Linked DNA regions of Homo sapiens. The protein of the gene in region 4 purifies or fractionates together with the protein of the main gene of each other region. This does not show direct contact. Each region holds a gene or a part of one and is shown on either strand. Other genes may lie near its edges.

Region 1 (3,823 bases), on a different chromosome or scaffold from region 4:
GGTGCGGGCGGCAGAGGGCAAGCAAGGCCCTTTTCCCTGCTGGAGTAGCCAGGATGCAGTAACTAACGCTCCCATGGGAAGGGATGGCCTCTCTAGAAAGACCTCGTCTCTGAGGTTGGGTGTGCCACATCCTGTATCCTCAGTTTATCTGTTTCGGTCTCAGGGTATCTGCTTCATCCGGACCAGCCGCCCAGAAAATGCCATCATCTATAACAACAATGAGGACTTCCAGGTCGGACAAGCCAAGGTCAGTGCCTCGCATGCCCCAGGAGCCCACAGAGCTGCCTGGACCCTCCCTGCTGTGACTCCCAGCAGTCAGGGCACACCCTGCCCCAGGGCCCTGAGCCTTACTCACCCTCTGTGTCACCCCCAGGTGGTCCTGAAGAGCAAGGATGACCAGGTGACCGTTATCGGGGCTGGGGTGACCCTGCACGAGGCCTTGGCCGCTGCCGAACTGCTGAAGAAAGGTGAGGAGAAGGGGCCTCCAAAGTCATCAACTGAGCGGCCACTGCATGCTAGGTCTTGGGGTTCTTTCTTTCGTTCTTTCTGTTCTTTCTTGAAGAGCTCACAGCTAGAGAGAAAGCATTTCATTTCATTAAATAATGATAGCAATTATAGCCATCCTTTGAGCACTTGTTCTGTCTGGCATGTTGCTAAGTCCTGGGGCTGCAGTGCCCACAGTCCCTACCCTATGACTCTAAAGTCGAGACCCCCCCAGCATGGTGGCCAGATCAGTGGCCTGGAGCCTGCCAGCTGGGCTGGAATCACTCAGCCAGGCACTAGTTAAGGAAGTAAGTTATTCACTGTCACCATGCCTGTTTTCCTATCTGTAAAATGGAGATACTAGCCCCTTGCCCTCAGAGCTCTCCTGAGGGTTACATGCATGTGACTTGGTATTCTATTATTATTACTGCGAGCTCACAGTGTTGGCTAGTGGTTTGTAGGGGAGACAGGCATTGGCCTCTCCTGCAATAGAATCACACAGCAGATGTCATGTTTTAGCACGAAAGAGGGGGCAGGTGTGGCATCTTCCAGAAAGTGGCTTCAGAGTGGGTAGGAATTGATTAGCAGAGAGGAGAGTGAAGGGAGGCCGGAGGAGGGTCAGGCAGGAGCAAGATGGGGCTGGAGGAGCCAGAGGAGTCCATCCCCAGGCAGGGGGAGACCCAGGGGGGTGAGCTTTAAGCAGGGCCTGGCAAGCGTGGGTTTGTCCTTCTGAGAAGGTGCCTCTGCTGCTGGGGCCGCACGTGGGCCTCTGATCACTCTGCGGGCTGCAGCTCCCCAACGTCACCACATCAAGCCTCACCTTCCATCAGGCCAGACACCTGGGGTGTTTTCTCTCGCATTCCCTTTGTCTTCAAGGTTGTGGGAGGATGAGGGAAGGCGCTCAGGGCCTGCACGCTCCGCTCTGGGTTCTTGGATACTGCGGGCAACACAGCTGGACCAGATGCCCCAGTGCAAGGGGTTGGCAAGCATGAGCTCAGCCATGGGAACGAGGTGGCAAGTGGTTCTCCCTGGGACAGGGACAGGCCCGCAGGCTGAGCTCTTAGCTACACGCAGCCCTCAGGATGTCCCACCAGGCCCCCACCAGGGCAGATAGTGGTGCCCAGCCCTCCCCTCAGCCACGCCGTGTGCTCTCCCTCACAGAAAAGATCAACATCCGCGTGCTGGACCCCTTCACCATCAAGCCCCTGGACAGAAAACTCATTCTCGACAGCGCTCGTGCCACCAAGGGCAGGATCCTCACCGTGGAGGACCATTATTATGAAGGTAAGGAGGCCTGGGGCAGGCAGGCTGGGCAAGGGACAGGGCCAGAGAGCCGAGCGTTGGACGTGCCTCTTCTATCTGAGCCCCAGGAGGGCAGCTGTGGCCCAGAACACCCAGAGCTGTCCCTCAGAGCAGCTGGGACGTGGTCTCTTAAAAGGCCTCAGGCTTGGCCTGGGGACCTAGCTAACTCACAGCTGCTGATGAGCTCTGTGGAGCTCCTGCTGCCCAGGAAGCTGGTGAGGATTCCAACCTCGCTGCTAAATGGTGGATGGTGGCGTCCCTGAGGTAGTGTAGGGTGGAAGCTATGGTGCAGCTTGGGAAGCAATGCAGAATTTCTGGTATTTGTGAGTCCTTCACACAGCAGGCTCCCTAAGTACACACCAGCCTCTCTAAGTAGGAGGCCCCAGTGGGAGAGATGGGCTTTGACTCTGGGGTCAAATGTAGATAATTGGACTATGGACAGTGGCTGGCTGGTCACCAACAATGGTGTTTGAAACAAACATTTAGAGGCCATATTTGGGCTTATAAAAATAGTTCTGGGCCGTGCATGGTGGCTCACACCTGCAATCCCAGCACTTTGGGAGGCTGAGGACAGCGGATTTCTTGAGCTCAGGAGTTGGGAGACCAGCCTGGGCAACATGGTGATACCTGTCTGTCTCTTTAAAATAAAAAAAATCAATGAGTTATGTGATGGGCTCATGGCTACAGGTGGAGAAAGGCAGTGCATATGCAGCCTCCTCCATCCTTGACTAAGGCTGACAGAGGGCTGGGCCCACCACTGCTCACCCTGAGGCCTCGTCTTCTGACTCCCCTCCTTTCATTTCTAGGTGGCATTGGTGAGGCTGTGTCCAGTGCAGTAGTGGGCGAGCCTGGCATCACTGTCACCCACCTGGCAGTTAACCGGGTACCAAGAAGTGGGAAGCCGGCTGAGCTGCTGAAGATGTTTGGTATCGACAGGGATGCCATTGCACAAGCTGTGAGGGGCCTCATCACCAAGGCCTAGGGCGGGTATGAAGTGTGGGGCGGGGGTCTATACATTCCTGAGATTCTGGGAAAGGTGCTCAAAGATGTACTGAGAGGAGGGGTAAATATATGTTTTGAGAAAAATGAATTGGCCCTGAAATGTTTTCTTTTTTGATGTGTTTGCAGCCAGTGCAGGTTCTGGGGAAGAAGCGTGGAGGGTGCGCTAGGGAGGCTGGTGTCCTTGGTCCTGGGCCAGGACCTGGGTGTCCCAAGTCCCCTTGGAATCACCTGCAACTGCCCTCAACCTCCAGAACTATCGCTGCCTCCCATTCATCACCAGGTGACATTTGACTGCAACCTGCCTTCTAGCTGAGAGGCTGAGACCTACATCCCTCATTGTGACCTCAGTCCACCTGGCCCTGAGCGGGCTGGGGAACTGCCTCAGTCTGGAAGCTGACCAGGCACTCTCAGGGCCGCCCCACCTCCCCCAAGTCCCCACAGCCTTGCAGTCAGGTCTCCTGGGATAGGGAGGTTCACTTGCTTGTTGTCCCTCGTCCTTGTCATATCCTTTTAACTAGGCATCTCAGAGAAGCAGAGACAGGGCAGCCTTCGTCCTGGGGGAAAAGGGACCCTCAGGATGGCATGAGAGGTCCTCAATCCCAAGTGTGGAACTGTCCCCCTCAACTTGTTAAAATGCAGATTTCTGGGTCTTGCCAATGGGGCCTGGGACTCCATGTGACAACTGGCCCAGGAGCTTCTGATGTCACACAGAATTCTGCAGTCCCAAGCTCCAGCCCCGACCTGCTCTGCTGTTCCTAGGTGACTGCCCTCACACTGCTGACCACAGTGGATTTCTCCCCCTGCTGCTCGGGCTCAGCTGGGGTCAGCCCTGCTTATAAGGTCAACTGTGCAAAACCTTATACTGGCCAAGAACAAACTAGTGCTGGGGGAGGAGGGCTGGGTGCCCCGGCCACTGGTGGAGTCCCCAGGAAATCCTCAGAGCTGTTGCGAGGATGAGACACATTTGTGGACACGTCCACCTGTCCTCCTGACCGTCTGGAGAGAATAAACCTGTCAAAGCCAAGGTCAGGCAATT
Region 2 (3,823 bases), on a different chromosome or scaffold from region 4:
CAACTCCTGGTCTCAAGTGATTTTCCTGCCTCAGCCTCCCAAGTAGCTGGGACTACAGGCATGAGCCACCATGTCCAGCTAATTTTAAAAAATTTTTTGTAAGGATGAGGCTTCACTATGTTGCCCAGGCTGGTCTTGAATTCCTGGCCTCAAGTAATCCTCCTGCCTTGGCCTCCCAAAGTGCTGGGATTACAGGCATGAGCCACCACACCTAGCTGAGAAGTGTCTTGATACATAGGCTTTGGGCTTTGCTTGACATACCATGTGGCACACTGGAAATGTTTAATAAACGTTTGCTGAGTGTATATTTTGCTTTTTTTTGTAAATTTATTTATTCATTTTTTAAAAATTTTTAGTAGAGACGGGGTTTCACCGTGTTAGCAAGACGGTCTCGATCTCCTGGCCTTGTGATCCGCCCGCCTTGGCCTCCCGAAGTGCTGGGATTACAGGCGTGAGCCACCCCGCCCGACCGCTTTTGTTTTTAGTAACAGCTTTATTGAGATATAATTCACATACCATGCAATTCACCCATTTAAAGTGTATAATTCACTGGTTTTTAATATGTTCACAGAGTTGTGCAACCATCACTATTTTAGAGCACTAGTCAATTTTAGAGCATTTTTATCACCCAATAAAAGAAACCCTGTCCCCATTAGTAGACACCACTGATTTCTCCCCAACCCTTCCTCACTCAGCCTATGGCAACCACCTGCTAGTCTCCTTTCTCTGTGGATTTGCCCATTCTGGGCATATGTAAATGGAAGCCCACAATATGTGATCTTTTGTGTCTGGCTTCTTTCACTTAACATGTTTTCACAGTTCATGCTTTTCTAACATGCATCAATTACTTCATTTCTTTTTATTCCTAAATAATATCCTATTGTATGCTTATACCACATCTTATTTATACACTTATTTGGTGGACATTTTGTTCTACTTTTTGGCTGTTATTGGTAGTGCTGCTGTGAACATTTGTGCATAGGTTTCTGTCTGCATGTGTTTTCATTTCTTTTCAGTATATACCTACCAGTACATTGCTGGGTCATAACTCTTTTTAACCTTTTGAGGAATTGGCAGACCGTTTTTCCAAAGCAGCTGTGTAATTTTACATTCTTACCAGCAATGTGAGGTTCTACTTTTCTCCACATCCTTACCAATTGCCTGTCTTCTTTATTATAGCTATCCTACTGTTTGTGAAGGGGTATTGCATTGTGGTTTTGATTTTTATTTCTCTAATGGCCACTAATGTTGATTTTCTTTTCATATACTTACTGGTCATTTATGTATCTTCTTTGGAGACATCTTTATTGAGAGCTTTTGCCTTTTTCAATGGGTTCATCTTTTTATTATAGAGTTATGTCGAGAATATATAAGACTCTTAGAGTTCCCTATCAGATACATAATTTGCACATATCTCCCAGTCTCTGGGTTGTTTTTCACTTTCTTGATGTTGTCCTTTGAAGCACAATACTTCACATTTAACATTAGACCAGTTAAATATATTGAGAGTTAAATCCATGTGAAAGTTTTACTCGTATTACAGTATTGCAAAGAACAATGTAATCAAGTTATTTTGTGGTATATTAGTACTTTTAACTAAGATCTGTTAAACTAAGCTAGAAATTAGCTGACATGTATTATGGTCAGATCTTTTAGCTTTTATTCTAGTTTGCTTTAGCTTTCAATATATTGTGCTCACCAGATATTCTCCTATTTCTCACCCCACATGCACGCACATATCTTTGCATTCATGACTTTTTAATTAGTATTAGAATTTTTTTTTTTTTTTTTTGAGACGGTGTCTAGCTCTCGCCCAGGCTGGAGTACCGTGGTGCAGTCCCGGCTTACTGCAATCTCTGCCTCCCAGGCTCAAGCAATTCTCCTCAGCCTCCTGAGTAAAGGGGTTACAAGCATGCACCACCATGCCCGGCTAATTTTTTGTATTTTTAGTAGACACAGGGTTTCACCATGTTGGCCAGGCTGGTCTTGAACTTCTGACCTCAGGTGATCCACCCACCTTGGCCTCCTGAAGTGCTGGGATTACATATGTGAGCTACCGCACCCAACCTGGTGTTAGAATTCCAGTTAGGTGTTTTCAGACTGCTTCAGCAAAAATAATTTGATGTAGAAGAGAATCTTAGCTGGATGAGCCATTTATGATTTTTATAGATCATTAATCCTGTTGCCTACCACCTCCCCATCCATTTGAATGACTAGTTTGAATATGTTAGGAAGAGTGTATCTCTACAGAGGATAATGCATAGCTATCCTTTTCTTAAATTCCCATTATATATGAAATTTATATATATTTAATTATATATATATTGTTACATTTTTTATCATTTTCCTTCTTTCTTTAACTGACATCCTTGAGCTATCCTTTTCTTAAGTTTCATGCTAAATTCTACCCTGAATTAATGGTGGTCATTTATTTAACACAGTGGTTCCAGAATTCTTTTTTTAAATAATAATTGTGTAGATACAGATATTTTTCCCTGCCCACCAGATAGCCATTCTACTGGAACGTAATGGTTAGCATTCCTTTGTTTCTCAGTTATAGAAGGTCCCTGCAGATTTTAACTCTCAACTAAACAGATGTTAACATGGGGGTGAGATCTGAGAATGCTAGCATAAATTTACGGAGACAAATCCATAGATATCTTCATCATTGGTCATCTGAGGAGAGTAAATCTAGGAAGGGATTATAAAGTTTATTTGGACATTTGGTTTTTTTGTTTTTATTTTGTTTTTTGTTAATCTATATGAAGTCGAGTTGCTCTTTCCCTTTTTTACCCTATTGAATTTTGTTTGAGGATAAACAACTCGTTGTAGAAACTATATCAAGGGTTTAAAGTTTTAATTTTTTTGAATATGTGTAATTTGTATTATTGGTGAAAAGAAAAATATGTATCAGTTTACTATATATATTTCTCCTTGTTCTGATTGTTTGCTTACACATTTCTCTGTTTGCGTTTAAAGTAAGGATCCAGCTAAGTGGTTGGTCATTTAACAGATATTTGAGCTTCTGTTGTATGCCCAGTTTTTCTTAAAATAACCACAAGAAGCCTAAGACAGGGGTCTTGATTTGAAGACATTAGTATGATAGATTGATGGTTTTCCACCAAAGGCAGTTTTATCCCCCAGGAGACGTTTGACACTGTCTAGAGACATTTTTTATTGTCTCAGCTGGGGGTGCTATGTTGTCTAGTGGGCAGAGGCTAGGGATGCTGCTAAAGAAAAGAATGCCAGCCTGGCCAACACAGTGAAACACCATCTCCACAAAAAATAGAAAAATTAGCCAGGCGTGGTAGCACGCTATGTACCTGTAGTGTCCCGGCTATTTGGGAGGCTGATGCAGGAGGATCATCTGAGTCTGGGGGAGGCTGCAGCGAGCCATGATCGCACCACGGAACTCCAGCCTGGGTGACAGAGCAAGACCCCATCTCAAGAAAGAAAAGAATGCACAAGAAAGCCCCCCAGTACAAAACTTATCTGATTCTCAGTAGTGCTAGGGTAGAGAAACCAAACTAACCTGTGAAATAGCTAGGTGCTATTTAATCAAAACAAGTATTTTGAGCTCCAGAATAACATTTTTAAAAATTTATTTTTTTTTTAAGACGGGGTCTCGCTGTCACCTAGGCTGGAGTGCAGCGACATTTTAGTTCACTCCAGTCCTGAACTCCTGGACTCAAGTGATCATCCCACTTCCGCCTCCTAAGTAGCTGGGACTACAGGCTCACACCACCACACCCAGCTAAGTTTTTTTTATTTTTGTAGACATGTGCCCAGGCTTGTGTCAAATTCCTGGCCTCAAGCAATCCTC
Region 3 (3,823 bases), on a different chromosome or scaffold from region 4:
TTAGGGCTGGGATGGAAAGGTGTCCTCCAACTCCCCACTTGTGTGGGTTCCATCTTACCATTCCTGATATGGGCCCTGGGCCTTGCCTTCCTGTAGAGGTGCCTGAGTTTCAGTTCCTGATTGGAGATGAGGCAGCAACACACCTGAAGCAGACCATGAGCCATGACTCCCAGGCTGTGGCCTCCTCTCTGCAGAGCTGTTTCTCCCACCTGATGAAGAGTGAGAAGAAGGTGGTGGTGGAACAGCTCAACCTGTTGGTGAAGCGGATCTCCCAGCAAGGTGGACACAGTTATATTCCTGGTTGGGTGCAATGCTCTGGCCTGGGCTTCCCAGCAGACACCAGACTCTGGGGACAGTTCTCAACCCCCTTGCCCAAGTGGAACACTAAAAGGGGCCCCACTTAGATGACCTGTTGGCAACTTAGCATTGCTTGCCTAGTCTTTGTGGAGCAGGGCCCTTCTTAGTTGAGTGCTGCTTCCCAACTGGTCATCTTCTCCAGATGGTTGGAGGCAGACTGGCATAGAGGACTCTTAGGATGCCTTCCACCTAGGCATTCTGAGATTTTCCCTAGCCCTGCAGCTGCCCTCCATGGATGGACTTGTATCTCGGGGCTAAAGAGGCAGGAAGGGGACACGAGCATCCTCCCTCTCCTGGAAAGGACTGATGCCTCCAGCACTCAGTCATTTGATCTTTCCTTTACCTTCTGTGTGCCCAACCTTGTGCTAAGAAGAGTTCAGGAAATGACTGTGATGGGTGTGGTCACTGTCACCCTAAAGGTGGGGAGTCAACACAAGCAGTAAGAAACCCAAAACAGAACAGACTCCCAGCAATGAGCTTATGTGGTGCAGGCGATGAGGTCTCAGCTTCTTAGCCTGGCAGCCACAACCCCTTCTCTAGGTGGCCCAGAGCTCTCTTTTTATTTTACCTCTACAGGTTTCCCATTACCTTTGAGCCTTAGGGCATTATTTATTTGACCCAAGCATATTTTTTTCTGTTCAGTGTGTGTGTGTGTGTGTGTGTGTGTGTGTGTGTGTGTGTGTGTGTGTGTGTGTGTGTGTGTGTGTGTGGTCTCTTTCTGTTGCCCCAGGCTGGAGTGCAGTGGTGCGATCTTGGCTCACTGCAGCCTCTGCCTCCCGGGTTCAAGCAATTCTCCTGCTTCAGCCTCCTGAGTAGCTGGGATTACAGGCATGTGCCACCACATCTGGTTAAGTTTTTATATTTTAGTAGAGACGGAGTTTCACCATGTTGCCTAGGCGGGTCTCGAACTCCTGAGCTCAGGCAATTCACCTGCCTCAGCCTCCCAAAGTGCTAGGATTACAGGTGTGAGCCACCACGCCAGGCCCCTTGCCTCACTTTAAAGAAGCCTGGCTGGGCACGGTGGCTCACACCTGTAATCCTAACACTTTGGGAGGTTGAGGCGGCCGTATCACTTGAGGTCAGGAATTCAAGACCAGCCTGGCCAACATGGTGGAACCCCATCTCTACTAAAGATACAAAAATTAGCCAGGCGAGGCAGAGGTTGTGGTGAGCCTAGATCATGCCACTGCACTTCAGCCGGGGCAATAGAGTGAGACTCTGTCTCAAAAAAAAAAAAAAAATGCTGGGCATGGTGGTGTGTGCCTGTAATCCCAGCTACTCAGGAGGCTGAGGCGCAAGAATCACTTGAACCCAGGAGGTGGAGGTTGCAGTGAGTCTAGATTGCACCACTGCACTTCAGCCTGGGAGACAGAGCAAGACTCCGATTCGGAAAAAAAAAAAAGAAAAAGAAAAAGAAAAAAAATTTAAAAATTAAAGAAGTCCACCCTTGCCACTCTACCCAGGCTGAGCTCATTTTCCCTTGTCGTTTCCAGGACACATTTTGGCCCTCAGCGCATTCTGCCTCATGCTCTCTGGAGCAGACCGAGAGAGATTCTCTGAGACATAGAACTTTCTTTTTTTTTTTTGAGACGGAGTCTCGCTGTGTCACCCAGGCTGGAGTGCAGTGGTGCAATCTCGATCACTGCAACCTCCGCCTCCCGGGTTCAAGCGATTCTCCTGTCTCAGCCTCCCGAGTAGCTGGGATTACAGGCACGTGCCACCACACCTGGCTTTTTTTTTTTTTTTTTTTGTATTTTTAGTAGAGATGGGGTTTCACCATGTTGGTCAAACTGGTCTCGAACTCCTGACCTCGTGATCCGCCTGCCTTGGCCTCCCAAAGTCCTGAGATGACAGGTGTGAGCCACCGCGCCCAGCTGAGACACAGAACTTTCAGTGCTAAAAACTAGAAAGTCGCCGGGTGCGGTGGCTCACACCTGTATTCCCAGCACTTTGGGAGGCCTAGGTGGGAGGATCCCTTGAGTTCAGGAGTTCGAGACCAGCCTGGGCAATATAGCGACCCCCTCTCTCTGCAAATAATAAAAAACTTAGCCGGGCATGGTGGCATGCACGTGTGGTTCTCGCTACTCAGGAGGCTGAGGTAGGAGGATTGCTTGGTCCTGGACAGTTGAGGCTGCAGTGAGGTATGATCGTGCCACTGCACTCCAGCCTGGGTGACAGCGAGACCCCGTCTCAAAAAAAAAAAAGGGAAAGCTCGGGCATGTTGGTTACCCTTCATGAAACTCTTTTGCGTTATCTCCCTAGATTTTGAGCTCCAAGGGCAGTGGTTCTCATACAGGGGACATTTGGCTGTTGTCTGGAGCCATTTTTTGATTGTCAAAACCCAGATAGGGGTTGCTAGTGGCATCTTGTGGGTGGAGGCCAGGGAAGCTGCTACACATCCATCAGTACACAGGACAGCCCCCACAATAAAGAATTACCTAGCCCAAATGTCAGTAGCGCCAAGGCTGAGAAATCCCATCCTGAAAGGACCATACTCTAGCTCTTTTAGTGGCTAGTATAGTCCTGGGCATATGAATAGTCAAGATATGATGAAAGATGGTATTTGTATGGACTGGAGTATCAAGCAAGGCTCGACCCCCAAAGGGCTGGAGGCGTGGCCAGAAGGACAGGGCCACTTTGGCTTCTGGATTCCTGTGGCAGGGACCTTTTCCTAGGACTCCCTGGCCAATGTGGGGCTATGAACAGCACTGAGTATCCCCCTAAGTGACCTTGGGGTGCTCTGTGACCCTCAGCGGCTGCCGGAAACAACATGGAGGACATCTTTGGGGAGCTTTTGCTACAGCTGCACCAGCAGTACCCAGGTGATATCGGCTGCTTTGCCATCTACTTCCTGAACCTGCTTACCCTGAAGCCTGGGGAGGCCATGTTTCTGGAGGCCAACGTACCCCATGCCTACCTGAAAGGAGGTGAGCCACATTTCAGCAGTGAGCCCCACTGCCATCCCTGCTGGGCCCTGTTTCCCTATCTGGACAAAGGAAGGAGAAGGGTGGTCAAGGAGACCCCCAAGGACCTTGCAGCTCTGACCTCTGAGGGTTCCTGGGCTCAGCAAGCAACAGCTGGTAGGGATGATGAATGCATTTAGCATTGAACACGCCTTGAATCCTGACACCAACCCTGTGATGCCATGCTACTCTGATTTTAAGTCCTGCCAGTCAGTGTGGGAACCACAATTTGAACGCAGGCTATATTGGATCAAAGCTGTTGTTCTGTCACAGCCTTTGTATGTCTGTCCTACCTACCAGGGATTTTTACACTAAAATATGCATGTTGCCATGGAAGGATGCCACCTTTCGACTGTTGGCTGCTTATCCACACATGCCTCATGCACAGGATTCTGGGGTAGAAGTGGGAGACTACAGAGTTGGGGCTCCCCAACCCCCAGGGGTTAACATGACTCCCCTCTGACAATAATGGGTGACCTGTCACCTGTTTTTGGTATTTGATA
Region 4 (5,430 bases):
ACTCCTTGGGCAAGAAGTGTTGCCACAGCCGCCCGTCGCATGGGAGACCGGCTTCCATTCTATGCGGAGTCCACGGTCTGCTCTGATCTTGCTGTGTGGAGTTGTTGTGTGCGTGAAATGCTTGTGACCCTGCGAAGCGCCCTCCTGGCAAGTCCCCTGCAGGTGCGGTGGGTGCCATGCAGGAGGGTGCTGAGCTTGGATGGAAGCAGGCCCTCTCTGCGGCAGATGGCGGCTCTCAGGACGCCATGGGTCTGCGGTGTCCCTTACCCACTGGGGGGGCTCGGCAGCCTGAGGAGCTCCCTCTTCCTGATGCAGAGCCCTCACTGCTCACTGCCATGGAGGAGGCAGGAGATCCCGCCGGACCCCGCTTGGAGGGCTGGGCCTGGAGCATGCATGGGTGCGGGGTCAACGCCTCAGGAGACTTGGAGCTTGGGAGCCCCCTGTTCTGGGACACTTGTGGCCGTCCAGCTGCTGCCCTGGGAATCCACACCTGGAAGGTGGGTTAGGGAGCCATCCTTGGGGGAAGCTCTGCTTTTGAGTCTGAGAAGTCGTCCCAAGTTTTGAGGGTCCCTGTGCTGGCTTAGAAGTCCATGTAAAGCTTGATGGGGGATGAAAGTCAGCTGAGGCCTGCCGGTGATAACGGATGCCTTACACACACCGACTTCCAGTCAGCTTGAGGGGGGCTTCATGCAGGAGGAAGCGCATACGTGTGGTGGGGTGTGGGGAGTCCCTCTCTGGATCCTGGTGGGTTTGGCACGCGGACCCTACATGGTGGATGTGATGGACAGTGTCCTCCTTTGGGAGCGGGGCCTGTCCTGGTCCTCTTGTGAAGGGTGGGGGACAGGCACTGACCTGTCAGGAGGGTTAGAGGGTTGGCACCAGCAGGTGGCCTGGAGCGCTCAGAGCACGCGCGATCAGGAAGGCCCGAGTCTCCAGTGTGCCCTCCCTGGCCTTGTGAAGTCATCTTAAAGTCTGGCTTGAGCGCCTCTGACTTGGATTCTGGGAAGCTGACACAGCGCGGCCGGGGTCGCCACATCCTGTTGAGTAGCCGCTGGGTGCTAGGCGCCTGGGTGGTAGACCAGGTGTCAGGGATAGGGCCCATGCCTGGCCTACTGGGGAGAGGACAGAGGCTCAGAGGGGTCACCTCGAGCGCCCAGGCCATTGTGTTCTGCTGGCTTCCAAGGCAGCACACGGTCATGGAACTGGAGAGAGAGGTTTATGGAAGATTTTATCTGGTACACTGGGGAATGGTAAGACAGGGACACCTGGAAATATTGTAGGAAAGTCACAGAGGGAGGAAGGACTCAGCGGAGAGAGGAGAAAGCCGCCTCTGGGCAGCTTCGAGGATACCCAGGACTGTGGCCGGGGGCCATGCAGCTCAGAGCCAGGCCCATGGCAGGTCTCTGGGTTTATTGGGTGGCTGTGGAAGGAGACATCCTGAGTGGGGCTCCTGGCTGGGCCCCTAGAGGCCGTGACTACTTGTACCTGTGCAGAGTGAGCACAAGGCACCTGGCAAGATTGTTGGTCAGGCCAGAGAGGGCCGTGATCTGGGGGAGGCTGTTGCAGTGCGGGGAGTGATAGGGAACCTCATGGGGCCGTGCCGGCCTTTCTGGGGCTCTCTTGGTGCATTTGGAGTTATTCCGAGGCAGGTCTCCTGGGCTCTGTCAGCACTCTGGCCTGGATCACTCTGGGGCACCGTGGGCACTGCAGGGTGCTGGGCAGCACCTTTGGCCTCCATTCACTCCGGGTCAGGAGTACCCCCAGTCGTGACAACCACAAATGTTCCCAGACATCACCCAGTGTCCTGCTGGGGGGAGAGCCACTGTCTGGGAGCATCTGTGCTTTTGGCCTGGTTGCCCCTGCGCTGGGGGCCGCTGCTCCTTGTGGTTTATGGCTTGTCCTGTGTCGGCTCCTTTGATTCCTGTGAATGGGCCTTGAGGGTGGATGTGCTCCTGACTGGCTCGCCTTGGCTCCAATGGTCTGGAGCAGGCCGGTGTCTAGAAAGGCAGCAGCATGGACCCTGGCGCTTGCCCTTCACACAGCAGCTCCCCAGTGGCCCAGAGCTAGCAGCAGCGCGCAGCGTGCCCAGCTGTGCTTGTAGCCTTGGCTCTAACCCTTGGCTTTGCCAGAGAGACTGAGGCACAGAGGAGTTGAGGGATGGGCCCGGGGTCACCCCAGGGGGTGGAAGATCCGGAGCTGGGAGTCCACACTCCTCCACTGCCCGCCCCGCACAGAGGGCGCTCCTGGTCAGGCGGCTATGTTCATGGTGCGACCCGTCAATCTGAGGTTGTGCTGTCTTCTGTGAACTGAGGCCTTTTCCCATCCAGGCCTGGTCCCCGTGACACCATGTCATGATGTCAGAATCCCTGAGAGCTGTGACAGGGCTTTTGGCAGAGGCCAGTCATTCGACAGATGCTTATAGGCTGAGCTTCCAGCTTGGCTCCAGGCGTTGCCAAGGAGAACACTGGTCCGCCTGGGAGGGCGGGGCTGGCAGGGAGAGGATGAGGGTGACCACAGTTAGCACCCAGGATGTGGGCATTCAGGGGCTCCTTCAGCACACAGCAGCGCGTTCCAGTTCACGGACCGCTCCTGTGTTCTGTGGACCCCACACCCTGCAGGCGTGGGCTGGAGGGGGGGCATCTGACCCTGCTGGGGAGAGGGAGTCCAGGCTATGGAGGGGCGGGCTGGGCTCACTGGCCTGAGGCAGTGGGTGAAGTGGTCCTGGTTTCCCACCTGGTCTTAGGGGCAGGAAAGTCCCTAGAGGCTCTTCCTGATGCTCTGGAAGAAGAGAAGGGTTCCCCACACATCAGCCGCCACTGGGCCTGGACTTCTGCCTCTTGAGATTGTGCACGGAGCTGAGTGTGACTGGCGGAGCCCAGAGCCAGGTGGGGTCTGTGGGGAGGCAGGCTCCTCCTGGCTTGGTCCCCCGGCCCAGCAGGAAGGGAAAGGTCGCCTGCCAACTGCCCCCATTGAGGCTGCTGGCCCCGAATGGCCGGGCTGGCCGCCGGTTTTTGAAGCCCACTCTGGTGCTGCCAGGAGGTCAGGGCTCTTTGTGGTCAGCCTAGGCCAGAGGAAGCCTCTGCAGATGGACTTTACGCATAAATACCGCACAGGCACCCGAATGGCACGCAGCAAGCGAGGTTGCCATCCAAAACGGCTTTTGCTTTAACAGGCAGAAGAGGGTGGCTGCGCCGGCCACCGTGGATTGAGCACCTGCCAGGTGTCGAGCTGCAGGCCCTGGGTGCCAGGCTTGCAGATCCTGGGAGATGTTCATCATGACCTTTGATGGGCAGACTGCACGCTGGACTCCAGGTTGCAAGGGAAGAAGTGGAGCTCGTCCCACGCCTCCCCCACTAATGAGAACACCCCTTTTGGGTTTGTGGGGTGTGAGGTCTGTAGGAGCCACGACTTCCAGTGTCGGAGATGCCGTCAGCTGGGTGATGACTCTCCCACCCAGCGGGCCCCTCAGAGGCAGGGTGCAGGAGCCACATTGCTCACCGACCCCTTCATCTGCGTAGGCCAGTGTTGCCTTGCCCCGTTAACGTCCTCAGTCCACACGCCGCCAGCCAAGGTGCAGGCTGAGCAAGCCTGGAGCTGAGGACAAGCGGACCGCCAGCCCCGTAGCAAGCCCACGAGAGCCAGCAGCTCCTCCTTTTGGCCTCTGCCCGCGCCCGGCTTCCTGGACTCCGACGTTTACTTGTGTGAGAGTTGGTTCTGCTGCCTGGGCAGTTGATGGACAGTGTCTGGGAGGTGCCTGCCCAGGGCTCCGCATGTTTCTGATGTGCCGGCTTCTCACTCACGACCTGGTGAGGTTGGCAGCCAGGAGCTTTCTTATTTTATTGATTAAAACATCCTGAGATTCAGAAGTAGGGACTTTGTGCCAGGGCCCTGGAGGCAGTCCCTGCCACTGAAGAGATGACCCTGCTTTCCGGGACTTCCCGGAGGCTTCTGTCTGTAGACCAGGGAGAAGGTGTTCGCCGGTGGCTCCTGAGTGGTAGTAAAAGACACATGGACACAGGAAGCTTTAGCGTTAGAAGCTGCTCTCAAATATCTCAACAGAAACACACAGTGTGGCCGCGCGCGGTGCCTCACGCCTGTCATCCTAGCACTTTGGGAGGCCGAGGCGGGCGGGTCACCTGCGGTGGGGAGCTCCAGACACAGCTATGTGAAACGAAAGCTATCTGTTGCTGTCTCAGATTCCATAAGGACTGAGACTTGTTTCAAAAGAAACTGAAATTCTGTCTTGTTCTCAGTAATGAAAGTCTTTTATACCATAATTGTATATATAACTTCTGACTTACAGGAAAATTACAAAAATTCCCATATCCTCTTGGCCCTGCCAGACTCACCATTGGCTGACATTTTACCCTTTGGCACGTGGTGCCTCTTGCCCCACCCCCAGTGAACTGTGTGTGTGTGTGTGTGTGTGTGTGTGTGTGTGTGTGTGTGTTTAGATGGACCCTCACTCTGTCGCCCAGGCTGGAGTGCAGTGGCTTGATCTTGGCTCAGTGCAACCTCCGCCTCCCGGGTTCAAGCAGTACACCTCGAGCTCAGCCTCCCGAGTGGCTAGGATTACAGGTGCGCACCACCGAGCCCAGCTAATTTTTGTATTTTTAGTAGAGATGGGGTTTTGCCATGTTGGCCAGGCTGGTCTCGAACTCCTGACCTCAGGTGATCCGCCCACCTCAGCCTTGCAAAGTGCTGGGATTACAGGCGTGAGCCAGTGCACCCATCCCCACTGTGTGTGTTTCTACTGAAATATTTGAGAGTAGCTGGAGACCGATGCAGTCCCCTTTATGTGTACACTGAGATATCTATTGTTTCCCAAGAACAATGACATTCTCTCACATGAACACAGCACAGTGATCAAAATTGAGAAAGTGGCCGGGCGCAGCTACTCACGCCTGTCATCCCAGCACTTTGAGAGGCCGAGGCTGGTGGATCACGAGGTCAAGAGATTGAGACCATCCTGGCCAATATGGTGAAACCCCGTCTCTACTAAAAATACAAAAATTAGCTGGCGGGCGCCTGTAGTCCCAGCTACTCGGGAGGCTGAGGCAGGAGAATCGCTTGAACCCGGGAGGCGGAGGTTGCAGTGAGCTGAGATCGCGCCACTACACTCCAGCCTGGGCAACACAGCGAGACAATTTTTCAAAAAAAAATTGAGAAAGTATTTATTATTTTTTAAAATTGTATTTGAGTATTTTTTATTTTTTTAATTTTATTTAAGAGTATTTTTTATTTTTTTTTTAATTTTATTTAAGAGATGAGATCTCTGTCACCCCTGCTGGAGTGCAGTGACACAATCACGGCTCACTGCAGCCTCGACCTTGACTCAAACGATCCTTCTGCCTCAGCCTCCCAAGTAGCTGGGACTACAGGTGCCTGCCACCACCTGGAGTCTCGTTACGTTGCCCAGGCTGGTCTTGA

What was found. The genes of interacting proteins can lie anywhere in the genome.
Region 1: the proteins of DAZAP1 (region 4) and TKT fractionate together in Homo sapiens (co-fractionation; one large-scale study listed by BioGRID). This does not show direct contact.
Region 2: the proteins of DAZAP1 (region 4) and SNX3 fractionate together in Homo sapiens (co-fractionation; one large-scale study listed by BioGRID). This does not show direct contact.
Region 3: the proteins of DAZAP1 (region 4) and MPI fractionate together in Homo sapiens (co-fractionation; one large-scale study listed by BioGRID). This does not show direct contact.

What each region holds. Positions count from the first base shown.
Region 1 is NC_000003.12:53,224,700-53,228,522, reverse strand, and holds the end of TKT (transketolase), read left to right. Parts: intron 1-163; coding exon 164-247; intron 248-373; coding exon 374-467; intron 468-1,644; coding exon 1,645-1,767; intron 1,768-2,591; coding exon 2,592-2,767; 3' UTR 2,768-3,811; downstream 3,812-3,823. UniProt on the Homo sapiens protein: Catalyzes the transfer of a two-carbon ketol group from a ketose donor to an aldose acceptor, via a covalent intermediate with the cofactor thiamine pyrophosphate.
Region 2 is NC_000006.12:108,215,718-108,219,540, reverse strand, and holds part of SNX3 (sorting nexin-3), read left to right. Parts: intron 1-3,823. UniProt on the Homo sapiens protein: Phosphoinositide-binding protein required for multivesicular body formation. Specifically binds phosphatidylinositol 3-phosphate (PtdIns(P3)).
Region 3 is NC_000015.10:74,893,042-74,896,864, forward strand, and holds part of MPI (mannose-6-phosphate isomerase), read left to right. Parts: intron 1-96; coding exon 97-279; intron 280-3,110; coding exon 3,111-3,284; intron 3,285-3,823. UniProt on the Homo sapiens protein: Isomerase that catalyzes the interconversion of fructose-6-P and mannose-6-P and has a critical role in the supply of D-mannose derivatives required for many eukaryotic glycosylation reactions.
Region 4 is NC_000019.10:1,409,583-1,415,012, forward strand, and holds part of DAZAP1 (DAZ-associated protein 1), read left to right. Parts: exon of another isoform or gene 1-39; coding exon of another isoform or gene 40-497; intron 498-5,430. UniProt on the Homo sapiens protein: RNA-binding protein, which may be required during spermatogenesis.